3 linked regions of the Homo sapiens genome follow. The protein of the gene in region 1 interacts with the protein of each later gene in a pairwise test. Each region holds a gene or a part of one and is shown on either strand. Other genes may lie near its edges. The genes, in order: SFMBT2, LYPLA1 and SCML2.

Region 1 (7,721 bases):
AGAGCGGTGGTCGGCCGGGCTCCTGCCCAGTCTCGGCTCCTCCCTCCTCCCCACCAGAAGGAAAAACTTGGGCCCTTCGAGAACCCTGTGGAATGTTCTTTGTAATCAACTGTACATCCGCTTCCACGGCACGGCCTCGTGCAAAATCGCGGGTTTCGGGGCCTTGGAGCAAATTGCGCTTGTCAGCGGCGACGTCAGGAGGACAAGGGGAGGGGTTCGCGGCTGAAACTGCAGCTTCGCAGCACAGAGCCATTTTAGGCTGCTCCCCACCTCGCGGGGCCCATGGGAAAGCCGGCCCCGGGAGGGCGCGCCCAAACGCAGGCTGGAGGAGCCACGGACGCGTCCTGGCCGGCGTGTCGCCATCGTTCAGCCTCGCTGCCCAGGTGGGAGGGGTCACCTGCCGCGGGGTCTCCAAGCCAGTGCCGCTTGCTCCCGGCCCCCACCCACTGACAGCACGGCGTCCGAGTGACCCTGTCTAGCCTCGTTCTGCGCTCCTGCAAACCACGTTGCTGCGCTAACTACAAACCTGGCCAACATGTCTTTGTAACCCTATCATTTAAAAACGCTTCCAGGCACCTGGCCGCTGCCAGATCAGGTTCGCGGGCCCGGAGGAGGTCCTCCCACCTGCCCCCGCCAGCCCCGGGGACCGTGCGCGGCCTCCGTGTGGCCCCCGCCCACGAGGTCCCTCGGGCAGGAACCGCCGCGCGACCTCTGTTCAGCGGCCGCGTCCTGGCCACGGGCGACCCCTGTCGGGAACCCTGTTCCCGGCTAAGCTGCGTTCCCGCATTCCGGTGGCTCTCACCCGAGCTCGCGTTTGCTGGCTTTCCCTCTGGCTCCTCTGCCTGACCCCGATTTTGTCTCCGAACTCCACTCCCAGATCCTCCCCGCCCTGGAACGCCGACCTTTCCCCCGCACTTCGCCGCCCACTCACATCCCCCGGCGACTGCCCGGCCTCCATGCCCGCCAAGACAAGAAGATGCCCCTCTCCGATGCGCCGAGAGGGTTCCTAAGCCGAGCAAGGGACAATTTCTTCCCCAAACGCTGTCCCCATCCCCCACCTTCCCTAGAGCGCGAAACCCAAAAGTAAGGAAGGCAACCCCTCGCCTCGACCCTACGTGCTTGTCTCCCAGAGCCGCGCGCTCCCGCCCTTCTGCCCCACCCCACCACCACCACCACCACTTTGGTCTTCTCCAAGCTTCGGTCCCGGTCCCCCACCTCCCACCCCAGAGCGGCGTGGAGGAAAGCAGGAGCCCACTATTAAGTGCAGCGCGCCCCCTGCACACACGAAATCCGGCTGGCGTCTGCAGCCCGATTGCACCCAATACCCGGGACAGTTAGTCCTTTTAATAAGCACCTCCTCGCCCCACCTACTCGGGGATCTACCCGCGCAGGATCCAGCACACACAAGGCGAGAGCTAGCTCGTCTCCTAGAAAGACAAAATAAATCACTCCCTCTGCCCTCATGTACTTTACACCACGTGTCCGCAGTTTGTCACGTCAAATCATGGCAGGGTCTGGTTCCAAGACGCACACACACATTCGGGGTGGTTCTCTTTGACACACACACCCAAAAAAACTGCGCACACGCAGGCCTGCACACTAATCCACAGGCACACACGACAGTTGCGTTTCGGTGCCCTGGTCCGGGCCAGGGGCACTTCTCCATCCCTTTCCCCCCTAGCAATGGACTTGACACACAGACTCTAACCACGGAAAAAAAAAACCGGACAGCCCATTCCTTCTTTTTTTCCCCACTTAATTCGCTAAAGCGCTTCCTGGGGTAGCCAAAGAGAGTCGAAACTAAGGGGTGGAAACTTCAGCTGGGTTTTTTCCCACCTCAAAACCTTTATTTTCAGTTTTTAAAAGCCACCTTAGCCCGCCATATTGAAACTGGCACGGTTTCTAAAGACTCCTTCCCCGCAGTTGTGGCGCTTCCAAGAAAACACGAGTACGGATCAGGCTCTGGATGAGTGTCCGGCCACCGAGAATCAGCCACTTCCCACCCTCCAGGATCCCCCAGCTCCCTCCAGCCCCTTCCCACCGCCCCTGGTCAAAATCAATAAATACATCTCGCAGTTCCTACAGTTGCATTTTGGCGGATTTCTGCAAAACATACACACACATACACATACCCACGCACGCATATTAAAAAATAAACTCCAGAACCAGCTCAAGTCAGCAATTTTGAAAGGGGGTCGAATAAGAGGAGACAACCGGAAAGCCCCTAAGTGACAGGATATTACTTTAAAGAGAAAATAATGAACAAAAAGACCATCCTCGCTGGAGCACGCTCCAAAACTACTACTGCCAATTTTATTTCAGTTGCTCAGGCAAATGTTTCCAAGGGAGCGATTCCGAATGTCTGCACGATTTTTACCCCCATGCCGGTCTCCGATTCCCCGTCCTCACCATCTTTTTCTCCCACCCAAACCAAAAGAAAGGGGAGACCCCAGCGCGGAGGAGACGCGGGAGCGCGGGGTAGGTAGCAGCGGCGGCTGCGTCGCTAAAATGAGTGCAGAAACGAGGAAGGTGGGCGGCGGGAGGGGACAGGCTGCGCCCGGGGAAGGAGGACACTTTGCAACTCCGGACGGACTCCCGCACGGCTCGGCTTTTCCGAGCCCGGAGACGCAGGCGAAGGGGACCCGGGAAGCAAAAATGACAACCTGGAGCGCACAGAGGAGTTTGAAGCTTCGCTCAAGTGCAGTCGCTTTCTTCTCCTGCCCTTCTCTTTCGCTCCCCTGCACCCTCCCCAGCCTTCCCCCACCCGCCACCTCCAACCCCAGCTCCCTCAGGCTTCCTTCCTTTTTTTTTTTTTCCTTTTTTTTCCTAGGCTGGAAAAAGCCCCTGACCAGCGCACTCAACCTGCGGGCCGAAGGGCTGCTCTCCGGCCAGCCTGGGCGCCGGGGACAGCAGCCGGCGCGGCGTCCTACCTGGTGAAGTTCGTCCTGCCCTCGGCGTGGACCCAGGCCCCGGTCGCCGCCCGGGAGGGCACCGGCCTCGCTCGCTTGCTCGCTCGCCCGCCCTTGCCCGCTCGCTCCCCGCCCGCCGCCTCCCTCGCGCGCCCGCTCCGGTCCTCCGGCTCCCACTACAGCTCATTCCAATATGGCATCCTCTCTGTGCGCATGCTCGGCGCTCTTTTTTTTTTTTTTTTTTTTTTTTTTTTAAGATTTTGTGTGTGTGTGTATGTGTGTGCGTGCGCGTGCAGCGAACTCCTTCAACGACCTTTTCCAGCGCTTGCAAAATTTCTTAAGCCAATTAGCCTGCGGGACGTGATCGGCTCCTTCCCCAGCCAGCTCCGCGCCATTCCCTGCGCCTAAGCAGGCGGGCACCCCCAGGACCCTGGGACCTTCCACGCCCACGCGGCCTCCTCCCCACCGCGCTCCCCTTCCTCCTTTTTGTGAGCTCCCTCCATACATGATCTGCAGAAAGTTCCCATCGCGGGCGTTTCCGCACACCCCTCCGCAAGGACAACTGGGCAAACTCCCGTTTCCCTGGCTGCGGTTCGTGAGCTGGGTTTCCAATGGCTCAGTCGACCGTGTGCACAAACTTGCGCTTTATCCGCCGGGGATCGCTGGGAGCGGAGATAAATTCAATCCCCAGGGCAATCTTGGCCCCGCCCGCCCCACCCCATCCTGTGCTTAAATAGAGCCTTTCTTGAAGCTGCGAACATTTCCAGGCCCCTTGGGCAGGGCTGGAGGGGCCGAGGAGAGCTATTCGAGGGAAAGGTGCCCCGAGGGGCAGGAAATTAAGTTGGGGCTGCCCGGGCGAGCTGCCAGGTAGCCGTGCTCGCCACGGCGTCTCATGGGGCACCTAGCTAGTGGCGGGCCTCATAGGGCGGGAAAAGAATCGTCGCTCACACCCCAGCAAAACGTGGCCCTCGACGGTCCGTTGGAGAGCCCCGGCGGCCGTGAGCCCCGGGCAGGGCTGGACGTCTGCGGAGCCCTCGGGCACTTTGTCCCGGGCGCCTGGGGAGGAACGCGGAGCTCCCAGGGCCTTAGGTGCAACGGCTGCGCAGAGCCCAAACGAAATGTCCCCAGTGCGGAAAAGCCGGTGACGCCCTGGTAGCAAGACCAAGAGCTTCCGAAGAACGCTGCGCCCTTAACTAGGGGGCCTCGCAGAGATGCCTGTGTGGGCCTGCATTGTATATTTCTGCGAAATAGCGAATGGACACGTTTGCTCAGGGTTTTTATGGTTGCCAAAGGGGGTAAAATTACCCAGTCCCCCAAATCTGTGTCCCATGAATCCCTCTCATAGTACCCCTCTCCAGGGGGCCAAGAGGTCCTCCAGGTCCCCGTGGGTTCGCAGCTCCACCCGCCCTTCCTCGCCCTGCATCCCTAAGGAGAGGTGTCCGCTCTGAAGGGCTAGGGGCCAGCCATGGAGTGAGGGGACCGGGGCTGACCACGCGCGGCACAGACAGAGGTCCTCAGGCGGGCCCTCTCCTGGACGGTGGGGCCGGAGCTGATCTAGAAGAAATACGGAGGGACGTGCCGAGAAGCCGCTCTCCTTCGCCGCGACCCTGGAGAGCGCCTCTCCACCCAAAGGATCTGCCGAGCTGAGAGATCCAGGGCGGGCGTCCGCAGCCGTGAGGCCCCCTGCGCCGCCAGTATGGGAAGATCCTGCCTCCTTACACCTTGGAGAACGCTGGGCGACGACTAAAGCGCCTTCCGCCGGCCTGTCACTCCATGTGACACAGGAGCCACGTGAGACCCAGAAGAGTCCAGCGACTCGCCGCGCGGCGCACTTTAAACTCTAGCCTGAGTCTGCGACCCCTCCAGCTCTCCAGTCCCCAGCTGTTGGGGACATCAAGCCGGAGCCCTGGGCTCTCTGCCCTGTGGGTCGCTGAAAGCAGAGACTCCTCAAACCAACCGAACCGGGCGCATTAACCCTCTCGCCTGCACCCCGCTGCCTCCCGGTTGAGCCCCGAGGCGGCTCCAGGTAGAACCTGCTGGACTGACTGCGGCGTCCAGAAATCTGGAGTGTGGGCTCCAGACACTCTCCACGGTTTGGCCCCGGGTCTCAACACCCAAGTCGCCTCTTCTGGCTCCTTCACCACACAGCGGGGCCTGTGGAAAGGGAGGGGCCGAGAGACCCGTCGGCGCACCACTGTCCTCGAGGGGTCCCCACCCTGTGCACTGCTGAAGCGCAGGGCGCGCCGCGGCAGGAATGGCCCCGAGTGCGGATCCCCTGCCCTGAGCCTCCCACTCTTGGCCCGCGCTGCGCCTACCCAGTGGCCCTGGCCCCGCAGGGCGACAGCGGCTGCTCCCTCCCATTTGCGTCCCAGACCGCGCGGCCTCGCTTAGCTCCCGGGAGCCGACAGGCGCTTGCCCTGGTGCCAGCGCAGGGCTTCCCGGGGGCTTGGGGTAGGGGTAGGGGTGCGGGGGGGAAGGGGAGAACGTAATTTCCTTCTGCAGGAGTCGTGGAGACGTGAGCTGCAACCAGCCACCGCGCTCTCTCCAGGCTTGTTTACCAGTTTTAGGTCATCATTGTGCACGAAACATTCTTTCATCCAAATAAAAGCAAATGCAGAAGAACACCTGATCCCAAACAGTGTATGACTGCGTTCATTATCTTACCTGGTTACTCCGAAGGAGTTGAATTTTTTTAATGTTTTGGGTACGTAGACCCCGTATAATTTTGCTCCTGGGTCCACAAAATGGTGATTTTGGGGGAGGGTTACCTATCGTGATTAAGAAATATAATCAGGAAGTCGCAGCACACAAAGGTGGCATTGTTATTGTAAAAAAAAACTCCTTCCCTCCTATTTTTGTGTTGCTTTTTGCACGTGACTTTTTGAAGATTCCTTGATTTTCTTTTCTGCAACCGACCTCCATTCTCTTTTATCCAAGGGCACCAATGAGGCAAATGAAAATTGGTTAGGAGATTCCCTGAGGCAATTCAAGTGGCCCCTTCATCCCACTTCAATACCTTTCCACTTTCATTTTTATTTCAGAACCAGACACTTTAGGGATATATACCCAGATGTAGGTTGCACCCTAAATCAATTAAAGGTAGGAAAAAATTCCACATAGTCAGCAAAGGATAACGCACTGACAAAAATTGTGACTGCTTTTTTAAAGTAAAGAAGGCTTATGCACTCCAGCTCAAACAGGGTCATGAAAATCTCATTATCAACACAAGATTTTTCTCTATACTGTTAATATTTACTAAAAATCTTGGCCAAAATAAGCCTTTGATCACACTAACTATAGATATTATTTCACTCCTAAACTTTGCTTAAGCCATGAATTTCATCACTCTACAGATCAAGTTATCCCTTCACAGGGACTTTGGAATTCTTTAACATAAATGGGGCTAATTGGTTAATTGTAAAATATTTAGATGCTATTCCATTTGTCTAATGATACAGCACAAATTAGAAATATAAAATAACAATTGAAAAGTTTTTGTCTCATTTTCCTTATATTCCTAAGCATTACATCACAAAAACTATTGCAGAGGAGTTGAAAAATTATATGTGTACTATTTATTCTCTTTATATTTAGGACATGTGATTACTTAAATCTTGTTGCATTAGTCGTACCCAAGAAAAATGTTCAATTTGTACATACCTAGTCCATGTTTAAGTTATCACTTCCCACTGGGAAAAGGAAATGAACCAAAGAAAATAGAAGATAAACCATTATGCTTTCTTAATATAGAGACTCCCTAATGAACCATTAGACATACTAGCCTAACAGGAAAGCAGAAGGAGGAGAAAAAGAGGCCAGAACCAAATATTTGAAGAATTTGTACAACCTTCTCTTTACTGGAGCCTTGAAACCAAAACTTGTTTTTTCTTAGGCTACATAAGATAGTATTTTTCCATCAGGATCCTAAGGTCACAAAGAGTAAATCTAAATACACTCTGTCTTTTATTTTTTCACCTTTTTTCCTTATCTTCTATCCCCAATTAAAGCACTTAATGGTTAATGTATTGGGAGTCCAGTGACCTCAGTCACTGCTTCATCGCTAATTATCTGTGTGACCTCTGTAAGTCCAGTGACCTCTCTGAGCCGTTCTTTCCTCTTGGGTAAAATGAGGGGATTGGACTAGGTGTTCTGTGAGGTCCTTTCAGACCTAAACAGTGCTAAGCAATCTACCCCACCTCAAAGCCATAAATTGCTTTATATGGTATTCTGCCAATTTGATATAGCAATCAAATTCTGAGGTCACAGAAGATAAAAAAGAATTAAGTAAAGGAATTTGTAGGGAAAGGGTATTAGGGCCTTCTTTGCCTCACTGCCCTTCAGTGAAGGTACCATTCAGGTCATATTTTTGCCTTCTTTTGATTATTATTGTGTTTTTGCATTTACTGTATGAGTTTTGTGTTGCCCATAAAAGTGTGGGGGCTCTGGTGAGTGTATCTATGACAGTCCTTCTGAGAAAAGCCTGGGGTTATTGAGATGGCTTGTGAAAATAACTAGAGTTCTCAGTGAGTGTAGTGATGTGTATTGGTTCAAAAAATATCACCACCTAAGAGAGCACCTTCTCATACATTTATAGAAATTTCAGAAACACACTATTGCGATTGACTCTTGTATAATTTGAAGGAATTTCAAGCTTCCTTGACAACAAGAGAAAAAAATAATAGGGTACAGGGCATATTTTTAAAAGTACATGAAGGCCGGGCGTGATGGCTCATACCTGTAATCTTAGCACTTTGGGAGGCCAAGGCAGGTGGATTGCCTGAGTTCAGGAGTTCGAGACCAGCCCAGGGAACA
Region 2 (6,939 bases), on another chromosome or scaffold:
ATCCTTCAGAACGCTGATATTACAGGAAAGGGGTCCCAATCCAGACCCCAAGAGAGGGTTCTTGGATCTCACGCAAGAGAGAATTCAGGGCAAGTCCATACAGTAAAGTGAAAGCAAGTTTATTAAGAAAGTAAAGAAATAAAAGAATGGCTACTCCATAGCTGGTTGCCCATTTTTATGGTTATTTCTTGATGTTATGCTAAACAAGGGGTGGATTATTCATGCCTCCCCTCTTTAGACCATATAGGGTAACTTCCTGACATTGCCACAGCACTCGTAAACTGTCATGGCGTTGATGGTGTGTCCAGCATTGGTGGGTTCTTGGTCTCACCGACTTCAAGAATGAAGCTGCGGACCCTCGCGGTGAGTGTTACAGTTCTTAAAGATGGTATGTCTGGAGTTTATTCTTTCTGGTGGGTTCCTGGTCTCACTGGCTTCAGGAGTGAAGCTGCAGACCTTCGCAGTGAGTGTTATAGCTCTTAAAGGCACTGCGGACCCAAAGAGTGAGCAGCAGCAAGATTTATTGCAAAGAGCAAAAGAACAAAGCTTCCACAGTGTGTAACGGGACCCGAGTGGGTTGCCACTGCTGGCTCAGGCAGCCTGCTTTTATTCCCTTATCTGGCCCCATCCACATCCTGCTGATTGGTCCATTTTACAGAGAGCTGACTGGTCCATTTTGACAGGGTGCTGACTGGTGCATTTACAATCCCTGAGCTAGACACAAAAGTTCTCCAAGTCCCCACTAGATTAGCTAGACACAGAGCGCTGATTGGTGCATTTACAAACCTTGAGCTAGACACAGGGTGCTGATTGGTGTGTTTAACAAACCTTGAGCTAGACACAGAGTGCTGATTGGTGTTATTTACAATCCCTTAGCTAGACATAAATATTCTCCACGTCCCCACCAGATTAGCTAGATACAGAGTGCTGATTGGTGCATTTACAAACCTTGAGCTAGACACAGAGTGCTGATTGGTGTATTTACAATCCTTTAGCTAGACATAAAGGTTCTTCAAGTCCCCACCAGATTAGCTAGATACAGAGCGCTGATTGGTGCATTTACAAACCTTGAGCTAGACACAGGGTGCTGATTGGTGTGTGTACAATCCTCTAGCTAGACATAAAAGTTCTTCAAGTCCCCACTAGACTCAGGAGCCCAGCTGGCTTCACCTAGTGGATCCTGCACTGGGGCCGCAGGCAGAGCTACTTGCCAGTCCCACGCCGTGGGCCTGCACTCCTCAGCCCTTGGGCGGTCGATGGGACCAGGTGCCGCGGAGCAAAGGGAGGTGCTGGTCAGGGAGGCTTGGGCCACGCAGGAGCCCACGGCGGGGGCGGGGGAGGCTCAGGTATGGCGGGCTGCAGGTCCTGAGCCCTGCCCCGCGGGGAGGCGGCTGAGGCCCGGGGAGAATTCCAGCGCAGTGAGGGCGGGCCCACAGTGCCGGGGGACCTGGTGCCCCCTCCGCAGCTGCTGGCCCAGGTGCTAAGCCCGCCGAGCCCACGCCCACCCGGAACTTGCTCTGGCCCCGGTTCCCACGGACACCTCTCCCTCCACACCTTTCTGCAAGCAGAGGGAGCTGGCTCTGGCCTGCGCCAGCACAGAGTGGCTCCCACAGTGCAGCGGCGGGCCGAAGGGCTCCTCAAGTGTGGCCAGAGCAGACACCGAGGCCGAGGAGGTGCTGAGAATGAGCGAGGACTGCTAGCGCGTTGTTATCTCTCAATGAGAGTGCAGTAGTGAGGATGACCAGAGTTCACTCTCATTGCCATCTTAGTTTTGGTGGGTTTTGGCCGGCTTCTTTACTGCATCCTGTTTTATCAGCAAGATCTTTATAAGCTATATTTTGCGCTGACGTTCTATCTCATCCTGTGACTTAGAATGCCTTAACCGTCTGGGAATGCAGCCCAATAGGTTTCAGCCTTACTTTACTCAGCCCCTATTTAAGATGGAGTTGCTCTGGTTCACACGCCTCTGACACTGGTTACCGTGTGAAAGAAATGGAGTGTTGTTTTTTTTACAGCTTTCTTCCGAACCTTACTCTCTAAGGATGGTATCCAGTATGTCCTTTTTTTTTTCAGATGGAGTCCTGCTCTGTTGCCCAGGCTGGAGTGCAGTGGTACTATCTTGGCTCACTGCAAGCTCCGCCTCCTGGGTTCATGCCATTCTCCTGCCTTAGCCTCCCGAGTAGCTGGGACTACAGGCAACCACCACCACACCCAGCTAATTTTTTTTTTTTTTTGTATTGTTAGTAGAGACGGGTTTTCACCGTGTGAGCCAGGATGGTCTCAATCTCCTGACCTCGTGATCCGCCCACCTCGGCCTCCCAAAGTGCTGGGATTACAGGTTTGAGCCACTGCGCCCGGCCTCCAGTATGTCCTTCACTGAATTGTAAACTTCTGAAGGTCAGGGCATTTTGGCTTTAAGTGTTTCTATCTTGTGCTCTCTTCCAGATCTTACCATGTAGTTGATATGCAACACATTTGTTGAGTAACTACATTTTAGGCCATAAAGGCACCTGTGCAGAAAAGGGCAGTCTAGTCTCATGCTTATGTGTCCAGAGTTGGTTCCTTCCGGTGGGTTCATGGTCTCGCTGACTTCAAGAATAAAGCTTGTCACCTTCGTGGTGAGTGTTACAGTTTTTTTTTTTTTTTTTTTTTTTTTTTGAGACAAGGTCTCTCTCTGTCTCCCAGGCTGGAGTGCAGTGACGCGATCTCAGGTCACTACAAGCTCTGCCTCTCAGGTTCACGCCATTCCCCTGCCTCAGCCTCCCAAGTAGCTTGGACTACACGACCGGCCAATTTTTTTTTTTTGTATTTTTAGTAGAGACGAGGTCTCACCGTGTTAAGGCAGGATGGTCTCGATCACCTGACCTCCTGATCCACCCGCCTCGGCCTCCCAAAGTGCTGGGAGTGTTACAGCTCTTAAAGGTCCCACAGACCCAAAGAGTGAGCAGCAGCAGCAAGATTTATTGTGAAGAGTGAAAGAACAAACTTTCCACAGTGTGGAAGGGGACCCAGGGCTGCCACTGCCAGCTAGGGGATGGGGGGCGTGGCCAGCTTTTATTTCCTTATTTGTCCCGGCCCAAGTCCTGCGGATTGGTCCACTTTACAGAACACTGATTAGCCCGTTTTACAGGGTACTGATTGGTGCATTTTACAAACCTCTAGCTAGCCACAAAGTGCTGATTGGTGCATTTTACAATCCTAGCTACAGAGTGCTGTTGGTACATTTTACAATCCTCTTGTAAGACAGAAAAGTTCTCCAAGTCCCCAACCGACCCAGAAGACCAGCTGGCTTTACCTCTCACTTAAACCTGTACTGTGTCAATATCCGTACATCAGTAAGTGTTGTCGATCAAGTTAGGGAAGTAGTGGATTTCTGGTGACAAATGTTACCCTTTCCAACTAAAGTTTAAAGAAGGTAAGTTGAACCCAAATCTACATACTGCTGTAGCCCCAAACGGAAATACTGCAAAAGCTCCATCAACGTCTCCCAGTCCATCCAGACTTTTACAAATGGATAGACCCCGGCCGCAGGAAACCAAGGAGCACCTGGGGTTGGGTTGGGTGAATTGGCTCTGGGGCTCATTCTTTTCACTACAGCGCCAGAAAAGCAAAAACCTAAACCAAGACCCAAGAGACCAGCCCTCAGCCTGCACCTGAGAGCACATTTTCCCTAGCCAGCACTGAGCATGCGCAGGCTGCGTGGTGTGGCGAAAGCGCAGCCAGGTCCGCGCTGCCGCCGCAGCCAATCGGAGGGAGGGAGCCGCCCGGACATTGTGAGGTGCCGAGGGAGGGGCGGCGGGCGAGGGGCAGGGCAGGGCGGACCCTGGACGCGCGGGCGCGCGCGGAAGGTAGCGCGGGGCCGCGTTGGCGCGCACGCGCCTGAGCGTGCGCCCGGTGGGGCCGGCCGGGACTCGCCGCTCGCACGCCCTTGGGCCGCGGCCGGGCGCCCGCTCTTCCTTCCGCTTGCGCTGTGAGCTGAGGCGGTGTATGTGCGGCAATAACATGTCAACCCCGCTGCCCGCCATCGTGCCCGCCGCCCGGAAGGCCACCGCTGCGGTGAGTGGCGTAGGCGTGGGCTCGGAGGGGTCCACTGGGCCGGCCACCGGTGGTTGCCCCTCGCGCGGGGTGGGCGTTGCGGGCGCGTGGCGGCCTGCGGACGAGGACGCTCCTCCCGGCCCGGGTGGGGTGCGAATGGTCCGCGCGGCCGGGTCCGCGGGGGGCGGGGGCAGCCGGGGGGTCACAGCCGGCGCGAGGGCCAGTCCCCAGCTCCTCCCTGCATTGCGGAGGAAGTGTGGCCCCGGGACCCCCGCGGGCCGGCCTAGGGCACGGCGTCAGCCTCTGCAGCGTGTTTCTGCCTGGTGTGTGGGTGAGGGAAACCTAAGTCCGCCAGGAAATCGCCTTATTGTCACCTCGCACTCTTATCCTCAATGAAAGAAGTTTGAAGATTGAGTGTCCTACAAGGTCAGACGTACTGTTTTTTAGAAAACTCGTGTATGAAAAGTCAAACTTATTTTTGCCTCCGGAAGCTTGCTTTTGCAGTGGAAAAATTCTACAGGATATGTGAGATGTTCCTGATTTCACTTGAAAGAGATAAACTGTTTTTCTTAGAATGTGATCATTTGCACTCAATGTCTAACTGGGACCTCTCAGTGCTACCCCCCCCCCATTCATTATCTCAGGAAATAAAGGGAGAAGTTGATCAGAATTTTTGCCATTTAAAAGAGGTCGATAAAGATTAAGTCGCCGAAGATAGTGTTGTGTAATTCTCTCGTAGGTTTCGTTCCGTTTTCCACCTTAAGCAAAGCTAGTGTGTAACAATCCTGTGTGGGCTTATTTAGGCATTGCTTATTAATTTTCCTCTTCTCTTATAGGTGATTTTCCTGCATGGATTGGGAGATACTGGGTAGGTACCATTATTATTAATAGTAACAGTAATGAAACTGGGTCATGCAACTTTTGTTTACGCGTTCAAAGGTTTAATGTTTAAGGGCGCTAAAATGGTATTTTAAGATTGCCAGTTAATGTATCTTACAGTGCGGTGATTTTATGTTTTGAAAACCCTCAGAATTTTCCCCTTATCATCGTGAGTTTATTGATTTTTTAACTCTGGTTTCTGGAACATATTAAAATTTCAAATTCCTCATTAGTTGCTTTGGGTATTGGATACCAGAGATCCGTGGAATGTTAGTAGGGACGGTGTGCAATTGAGAGCTTTCCAGAGCAGTTAAAATTTCAGAGCAGATTGAAGAGAAGAACTAGTTGATTTTGATAAGAGAACTAGTGGCAACATAAGGCATGCAGCATTCTGAATAGAGGGATTAGATGTTCACTCTAATGAGTTGAAAGGCAGGGGAGGCAACTCAAAGATTTATTTGGAGGCTTATCAAACAATTTGTTGTACTAACTACTTATTTTTATTTTATTTTTTGTTTGTTTGCTTTTTTCTTTTGTTATTATTTTTAGAGACAAGGGCTCTCTCTGTCGCCCAGGCTGGAGTGCAGTTGCAGGATCTTAGCTCACTGCAGCTTTGAACTCCTGGGCTCAAGTGATCCTTCAGCCTCAGCCTCTCAAAGCACAGAGATTAGAGGTGGGAGCTGCCTGAGCCTGGCCTTTTGTACTAACTTTAGATACATGATTTATCTTTTACTCAAGCTTTTTCTATATTGAGATGTTTTTGTTTTTATATTTAAATTGGTGATAATCTGTGAAACTTAAGCAAAATATGAATGTTGTTGAAAAATTGCAGAAATAGAGGAAAACTGAAGATAAATAAATTTTGATAAAGTAGCCCCAGAACGACTAAATTTTCTTTAAAATGAACCATTGGGGCCGGGCGCGGTGGCTCACACCTGTAATCCCAGCACTTTGGGAGGCCGAGGTGGGTAGTTCACTTGATGTCAAGAGTTCGACACCAGCTTGGCCAATATGGTGAAACCCCATCTCTACTAAAAATATAAAAATTACCCGGGTGTGGTGGTGCATGCCTGTAATCCCAGCTGCTAGGGAGGCTGAGAGAAGAGAATCACTTGAACCTGGGAGGCAGAGGCTTCAGTGAGCCAAGATTGCACGACTGCACTCCAGCCTGGGCCACAGAGTGAGACTCAAAAAAAAAAAAAATGCCATTAGGCTAGATTTTTGTTTGTTTGTTTGGAGACAGGGTCTGCTGTGTTGCCCTGGCTGGAGGGCAGTGGCGTGATCTTGACTCACTGCAACCTCCACCTTCTGGGTTCCTGGGTCTCCCGAGTAGCTGGGACTACAGTTGCTTGCCACCATGCCAGCTAATTTTTGTATTTTTAGTAGAGACAGAGTTTTGCCATGTTGGTTACGCTGGTCTCGAACTCCTGACCTCAAATGATCCACCCACCTGAGCCTCCCAAAGTGCTGGGATTACAGGCGTGAGCCACCACTTAAAAGTGATTCCTATTTTTTGCCTAATAAGTCGAGTTATGTAATACAAACTTTGTATGGAGTTACAGAAAAGGTTGCAGCACTCTTTCTGGCAATCCAGTGGTCCTGTGAAAATGATGAACTTATTTTACCAAATGAAACTCGAATAGCAGAATCTCTATTTTATGGCCAAACCTTTCTTGATGTTGCAAGTCAGGGAGAAGGTTGCTATCCTCTAACTTTGCCAATAATGAGCACTTCTATGCCTGAATGATTAGTTCAAGCAAAAAAAAAAAAACTTCAGTCTAGGCAGATTCCACAGACTGAAGCTAAAAGTAAAAATGGTGAAGACTATTAGGATCAAAAATACCAAGAACATCCATTACATCTTGACCAAAAGTTAAGTTTATATTAAAAAAGTATCCTTCTTTTTAACCTGTTGTGATAAAAGAAAAAACAAAGGTCTCCAGTTCTGAAATTATTTGGTGGGATAATGCTAAGGAAAGGCTGACTCTAGATTGGTTCCATGAGTGCATGATGAAACTTCGAACC
Region 3 (6,991 bases), on another chromosome or scaffold:
GGTTTATTGTAAGCAACCATAACAATACTGAAAACAATTTATATCTTACAGATATGTGCTCTTGGTTTAATGGGGAAAAAAGGGCAAATTGTTAGAAACAGGGATCTGAAGATATTTGTAAAGTCACTATTTTAAACAATCAGTTATTTAATACCCATTCTATGGATTTTTACACTAAGGTAAAAATATGAATAGTGGGTTTACTAGTTACAACTTGGAGCTCCAGTCTCTGCCAGGCTTAGTTAGGCTTCTGTGTTTTAGGGAGAAAGATGCCCATTTAGTAGGAAAACTAGAGGGAGTCTTCACTCATCCTAAAACGTTAACTTTATGTATGCAAATTACATTGTTTCTTTTTTTTTTTTTTCCGAGACGAAGTTTCGTTCTTGTTGCCCAGGCTGGAGTGCAGTGGCACGATCGCGGCTCACTGCAGCCTCCACCTCCCGGGTTCAAGCGATTCTCCTGCCTCAGACTCTCAAGTAGCTAGGATTACAGGCGCCCGCCACGCCACCTGGCTAATTTTTGTATTTTTAGTAGAGACTGGGTTTCGCCATGTTGGCCAGGCTGGTCTCAAACTCCTGACCTCAGGTGATCCACCTGCCTCGGCCTCCCAAAGTGGAGGGATTACAGGTGTGAGCCACCGCGCCTGGCCGATATTGTTTCAACATAAGCATGTGTACTGATGAAGATCTAGATTAAACTTGCTTATCTAGGGAAGATTATCTTTTCACTCTCACTAATATTGAACTCTAAAAAAGGTACAAAAGGAAGCAATAAAACACACTTGAAATACAGGAGTATTTTGCCCTGGACTTGGACTGGGTGGGGTGATGTGTTTTTTTGAAGGTTGTCACAGGTTTGGTGCCAAATCAGGAGAACTATAAGAGCAAATTCACAGGAGCAAATCTGAGGCTTGAAAAATAAATCATGAAAACTTGGATTTTACCAGCTTTAGTTCTTATTCTTTCAGTTCACAGTTTCTTTATTTTCATGTTTTCTAGGCAAAGTTAATCGAACATAATAACAGTAGGTATTCATTTATCCATTTATCTATTCACTCATTCAACAAATATTTACCAAATTCCTACTATGGGCAAGAGACTTACATATAATGTAAGAGAAACGGTGATGTTCCAACCTGTGTTAACATTATGAAAAAACTGTCTCAAATTTATTTTGGCAAAGGTGGAAAAGCAGGGTATAATAAAATAATTATTGAAAAGTTTATATACGTAGTGGATAAAAGCACAATTGATGACAAGGGTGGAAGGAATTATTAGGACATATTTGAATATATTAATATATTCAAAAGCTAACTGCCACTTATTTGCTGTGTATTAATTTATTTTCCTCATCTGTAAAATGGGAATGAGAGTACCTACCTCATAGGAAAGTTGTGAAAGAACATTGCAAATATTGGAAATTTATCTCTAAAGAGACTAGCGTGATTCTCAGCACATGCTCAATAAATGGTAGCTATTGTTATTATCGATAACTCAGATTTAATATAACGAAGAGTCACACATCTATAAATCCTTTGGTGAGGATAGTAACTGAGAAGATGTTCTAGGATAGATAATTCAAATTTCATTTTTAGAATAAGGGCTTCAGTAATTTCATGTTAACAGAAATATGAAAAATAGATTAGGCATCAGTGAGCCAGGCAATTCAGCAATCATAGTAGAATTCCTACAATTTAATAGAATCCATAGACGTAAAAAAGGTATGTGACAAGCCAAAGTAAATCTTTCTTTTTTTTTTGAGATGGAGTCCCAAATAAATCTTTCATACATAGAATGTAGAGATGAATTTCAAATATTTCCATTGCATTGGGATTAGAAGGACAGTGGCCACTAATTAAGAATTTATGTCCTCCTCAGCCCTGCTGGTGCCCATAATAAGGTTTGTTTAGATTAAACCTCTGTTTAATTTCTTTCTGTTAAAGATCTCCTTCTGGCTTTTTTTTTTTTTTTTTTTTTTTGAGACAGAATTTCGCTCTTGTTGCCCAGGCTGGAGTGCAATGGCGCGATCTCGGCTCACGGCAACCTCTGCTTCCCAGGTTCAAGCGATTCTCCTGCCTCAGCCTCCCGAATAGCTGGGATTACAGGCGCGTGCCACCACGCCCGGCTAATATTTTGTACTTTTAGTAGAGACAGGGTTTCTCCATGTTGGTCAGGCTGGTCTCCAACTCCCGACCTCAGGTGATCCACTCGCCTCGGCCTCCCAAAGTGCTGGGATTACAGGCGTGAGCCACCGCGTCCGGCCTCTTTCTGGCTTTTGAAAACATGTTTGGGCCGGGCGTAGTGGCTCACGCGTGTAATCCCAGCACTTTGGGAGGCAGAGGCGGGTGGATCATGAGGTCGGGAGATCGAGACCATCCTGGCTAACACGATGAAACCCCGTCTCTACTAAAAATACAAAAAATTAGCCGGGCCTAGTGGCACGCGACTGTAGTCCCAGCTACTCAGGAGGCTGAGGCAGGAGAATCGCTTGAACCCGGGAGGCGGAGGTTGCAGTGAGCCGAGATCGTGCCACTGCTCTCCAGCCTGGGCGACAAAACGAGACTCTTGTCTCAAAAAACATGCTTGAACCTTCATCTTAGGACACTCCAACATTTTCTCCTATGTGATATACATTATAGAATTGATAGGACCAAATCTCACTTTAATATTTGCATATCATCAACCTAGTCTTTCTATTTTCGCCTTAAAGTTTACTTGAATTTGGCATTAACATTTAGGTTTTCATTTTTAAAGCATTAAATAATAGATCCATTTGATTCTGTGCCACTTGCCAATGTTTAGATATAATAAACACTTTGACTTTTGCTTAATACTGCAGAAGCTGCAACTGGAAAATTCTATCCTGCGTTGTAGACAATGGATATATTCCACAGGAGTTTTTTGTTCTCAGTTTTAAGCTCTGATTTCCAAATCATGATTTAAAAAGTATATCATGCCCTCTGCACTAAGTTAGGTGATCACAGATGCAAAACCTACATCCAGCTTTGGAAAGAGTTCCAGAGAGAGAAGCCCTAGCAATGGTTTGTTTTTGGCTAACATAGCACATTGTATTATTTTTCAAACAAAAGTTTGAAATCAGCTTATACCTAACCTGAGAACGAGGGACAGATGTTTTTCTCCGGCGTTCTGTTTGCTGTAATTTGTGCTGAGAGATTCACTGGTCGTTTTAAAGCTGTTTTTACGCCCCCTCCTTTGTGCGACCTCCACTTGCGCTATGGGCCTTGCCCGGTGGGAAAGGGAGCGTGCAGAAGGGACCCCAAAACGCACTCTCGGGGATGCTCCTGAGTCAGTAAGCAAGTGATTTCCCCCTGCGGGTTCATCTAGTTCCCGTTAGCTCAACCCCGGGTTTAGAGGAAGAACGAAATCCAGAGAGTGAAGCTGGGAGGTGAATGCGTGGCAAAAACTCATGGAAAAAAAAAAAAAAAGCAGTTTCAAGGACTATGCTGCAACCCGCCAAGCAGTGGCTTTCCTCAAGCTGCTGTAACCAGCTGCTTCTCCCTGCTCCTCGAACTTGCTTGAGTTCCGAGGGAAGCGCCTGCTTTTTGGGTGCGTGGCCAGGGTGGGTGGTGGCCAGGATTCGAAGGCGACAGTGAAGGGGAGCGAGTTCCCGGGATGGAACTTGACGTGGAACCCGGGGTCCCATCGAGGGGCTCCCCACGGCCTCGGGTGCTTGGGCTGCGACTGGTTTTTCATTTGGCGTAGGCGTGGGGGGTAGGAGGCAAAGTGCCAAGGGCTTTCCCGGGCTCACAGTGTCTCATGGTCCGCCACTGCCTGCGGTGGCGCTCGGCTTGACCCCGGCTCGGGCCCCGCACGCGGCGGCGGTCAAAGGGCGTGCTCGCGGCAACCGCAGGGCACGCGGGCCGGCCGCGCGGGGGGCGGGGCGGCAGTGGCGGTTGCGGGGCATGCGCGGCTCCGCGCGCGGCTTCTCAAACATGGCGGCGGCGGTGTGAAGCTCGGTGCCGGCTCGCGCGATCGGTGGGACAGAATTTCGTTGTTTTCACCGACGAGACTGGAGGTACGTGGTGATTCCGGGCCCCGTAAGGAATGGAGAGGCGGAGGTGTGTCCCGGACCCCGACCGTTGTCCGTGGGCGGGCGGGTAGAAGCCATCAGCGCGCGTCCCGTGCGAGGAACGCCCCCTTACGATCCCGCCTATGTCCCATCTCAGTTCGGCTTCGCGATAGGGTATCCCGCCCCCGGCGCCTTCCGCGGACGCCCTTCAGCCGATCTCGCGTTTCCCCTCACGCCGCCCCGGGGCCTTTTCGCCGCCGCGGGGTTTGGGCGCCCGGCCGATAGCTTCCACCCGTCCCCTCGCCTGCAGCGCCGACAGCGCCCTCCGGCGCATCCTCCCTGCCGTGGGTAGGGCCGGGCTGGGGCCTGGGGGGCATCACGGTGGGTGGCGGGGCGGAGGAAGGAGGTAGACTTTGCCTGGTCTGGGCTGAGATAACTTTTGGAGTTTGGGAGGGAAACGTCGGCCCGGAAGGATGCGCCTGTGGCGGCGTGCGGGCGCAAATCCTGGTGCCAAGGTGCGCGCCGCCGGGCTCCTGGCGGGGGCTGGGGGCGCCGGTGGCTCACCCTAGCGGTGCAGCGGGACCGGAATGCGCGTCCCGTCCGGGGCTGGCGGGGAGGCGAGGAGGGGCTCTAAGCCTCCTGAGGGGCGGAGAGGCGGCCTCGCGGCCTGACCGAAAAAAAGTTGCTGCCGTCACTTAGAAACAGTCTCGAAATGGTTTCTTACCTTTCTCGCTTTTTCCACCTGTATCGTGCTTGCGCCCCATCCAGGTGTGAAGAGCCGGAGGGAGAATGGGTCTAGGCGAATTTGCTCGATTTTGCGCCTCAAGGTTGTACATAGATAGCTTCCTGGGCCGACTTGTAATTCGGCTCCCCCAAACCCCAAATGTTTGGGCAGCACAAGTATTTACTTACAGGCTCCCATTTGAGACTATTTATTTTTTAAAAAGAGGTTGTTAAACATTTGTCAAGCATCACAAAGTGTGATTGCAACTTGAAATTTGCTTCTTGTTTGTAAATTAGGAGATTAACGTTTATGACTTACTTTAGGTCTTCTCTGGAAAGTTAATGGATCGATTAGTGGGGGTAAACTGAGGCAGGGAAAGTGAATAAGTTGCTTATGATCATATGATTTACAAAAGTATTGGAGATAGTTGTTTTTTTCCCTAAAACAGCTTCAGATGCTGCTACATTTTAATGCCCCCAGAGCTATTCATATTTCTGTTTTGAGGGAAAAGTATTTTAAGATGTACAACATTTATGGAGTACAGCTGCCTATGATGAGCAATTGTTTTATAACAATGGTTCATAAACGCATATTTAATTCTTTTCAATAACAGCGAGGGAAATGTTTTTCAATAATGACGATTTTGCCTTTCTTTTATTTTTCTTAATTACTCATTAAATAAAATATTTCCAATTACGAATGTGCTTTCAGGCTGTTTGTGTGTTTTTTTTTTTTTTTTCTATTTAATGGGAGGAATGTGAAAATAAGCTTTTGGAAATGAATCCAGTGGGATTTTTGAGAAAAGATTGAGTTTATGAGTATTCACCTGATGCCTTGTGTTTAGCTTTATCTATAACCTTTAAAACAGTTTGATAGAATGTAAAGAAAAAACACCATTTAAACTGGCTTTGAAAGTTTTGAATGAACTTTATATATACATCATGCAGCCATATGAACTTCTTAAGGATGTATACTTGTTTACCCCAGAGAACCTGATTTGCTTTGGAATTGGTAGTTGGAAAAAAGATTACTGTAACTCTACTGCATTATATGTGCGGGTGCTTTAAAGTTGATAGTGTCATAACGTTCAAAAATCATTACAGTCAGTCTAAAAAAGGTGTATCAGTTTTTCTCATGAGGTGGTTGATCAGTCCTTTTGATTTATGATTCCATCAACACATCTTTATTAAGCACCTGTGCTGTCTTTACTATGGAGTTCAGTTTATTCAGAGCCCACTACGTGTGCTAATTTCAGGGTGTTTAAGGCTTTCCACCCATAGTTTATTCCTGAAAATTTCAGGGAGTTATAGCTAAAAAAATCAATACGAATGTAGAACAAGTATTCCTTTCATTCAAAGGGCGAACTCGAGAAGTCAGTATTTTTGTCATAATTCTCCAAACAAAATTCTGAGTGTAGCTGCAAACTATTTCTGACTTACGTGATGTTAACTTTGTGATTTTTTGGTTAGGATTATATAAAGCTATATATTTTCATGAGATTATTTTCTGGTTCAAATAGATAACATACTGGTTAAGCTTGAGGGGAAAAATGAGTTGCTGGTATAAATGGAAATCAATATGTGCTCTGAAGATTGGGTATTTTTTAATACTAAGCAATTTCTATTACTAAGTAGTTTAAGCTGTAATTAAGTTTTAACTGGTATTTTAAAGCACTTTGTTTTTTCAAAATGTTGCAGAAATCTCTGAGCTCAGAAATAACAAATAAGGGTTATGATCCTCAGCTATAAGCCAGATGTGACTCTTATTTTCTTTTGGGCTTGTTCCTTTTTAGCTGCCTGCCTGTTCCTCCCAGATGCTTCCTATCACCCCTCTTCCTGCCCCTGTTCCCTTTGCTGTTGGTGTCTGTTTCCGCATCAGTGAAATGGTCAGGGTAATCCTTTGCTGCTTCACTGAGAAATAATTAATGATGGTAAAGTGCCTTGAAAAGGCTGAGTAAATACCAAGTCTTTTGAATTAACTTGATGTAGCCACTTGTTCCATTTAAGGAAGAGCCAAATCCCAATTTTAGTTTGAGCTCTTGGGGGTGCGAGAGAAAAGTTTCACTTGACTATTTTACTGCCTTTCTTTTGGGGTTAATAGCAATGACTTTTGTAACTCTAGTAACTGGAACACGGGTGGATACAGCAGTATCCTCTGCTGTTTGCCTTATTAGTCACCTCTAGTCTTTTTTTTTTTTTTGCCTGGTTATTCTGTCTGCCATTTTTCTCCCTCTATTCT

The links.
Region 2: the proteins of SFMBT2 (region 1) and LYPLA1 interact in binary tests that used the Homo sapiens proteins (3 or more experiments, as listed by UniProt).
Region 3: the proteins of SFMBT2 (region 1) and SCML2 interact in binary tests that used the Homo sapiens proteins (3 or more experiments, as listed by UniProt).

What each region holds. Positions count from the first base shown.
Region 1 is NC_000010.11:7,407,931-7,415,651, forward strand, and holds the start of SFMBT2 (scm-like with four MBT domains protein 2), read right to left. Parts: upstream 3,105-7,721; 5' UTR 2,931-3,104; intron 1,412-2,930; exon of another isoform or gene 1,372-1,411; intron 952-1,371; exon of another isoform or gene 932-951; intron 841-931; exon of another isoform or gene 803-840; intron 1-802.
Region 2 is NC_000008.11:54,098,872-54,105,810, reverse strand, and holds the start of LYPLA1 (acyl-protein thioesterase 1), read left to right. Parts: upstream 1-3,863; 5' UTR 3,864-3,987; coding exon 3,988-4,056; exon of another isoform or gene 4,057-4,461; intron 4,462-4,871; coding exon 4,872-4,903; intron 4,904-6,939. Other genes in the region: LYPLA1-TCEA1 readthrough, read left to right, coding at 3,988-4,056, 4,872-4,903. UniProt on the Homo sapiens protein: Acts as an acyl-protein thioesterase. Hydrolyzes fatty acids from S-acylated cysteine residues in proteins such as trimeric G alpha proteins or HRAS.
Region 3 is NC_000023.11:18,351,636-18,358,626, reverse strand, and holds the start of SCML2 (sex comb on midleg-like protein 2), read left to right. Parts: upstream 1-3,938; 5' UTR 3,939-4,035; intron 4,036-4,350; exon of another isoform or gene 4,351-4,377; intron 4,378-6,991. UniProt on the Homo sapiens protein: Putative Polycomb group (PcG) protein. PcG proteins act by forming multiprotein complexes, which are required to maintain the transcriptionally repressive state of homeotic genes throughout development.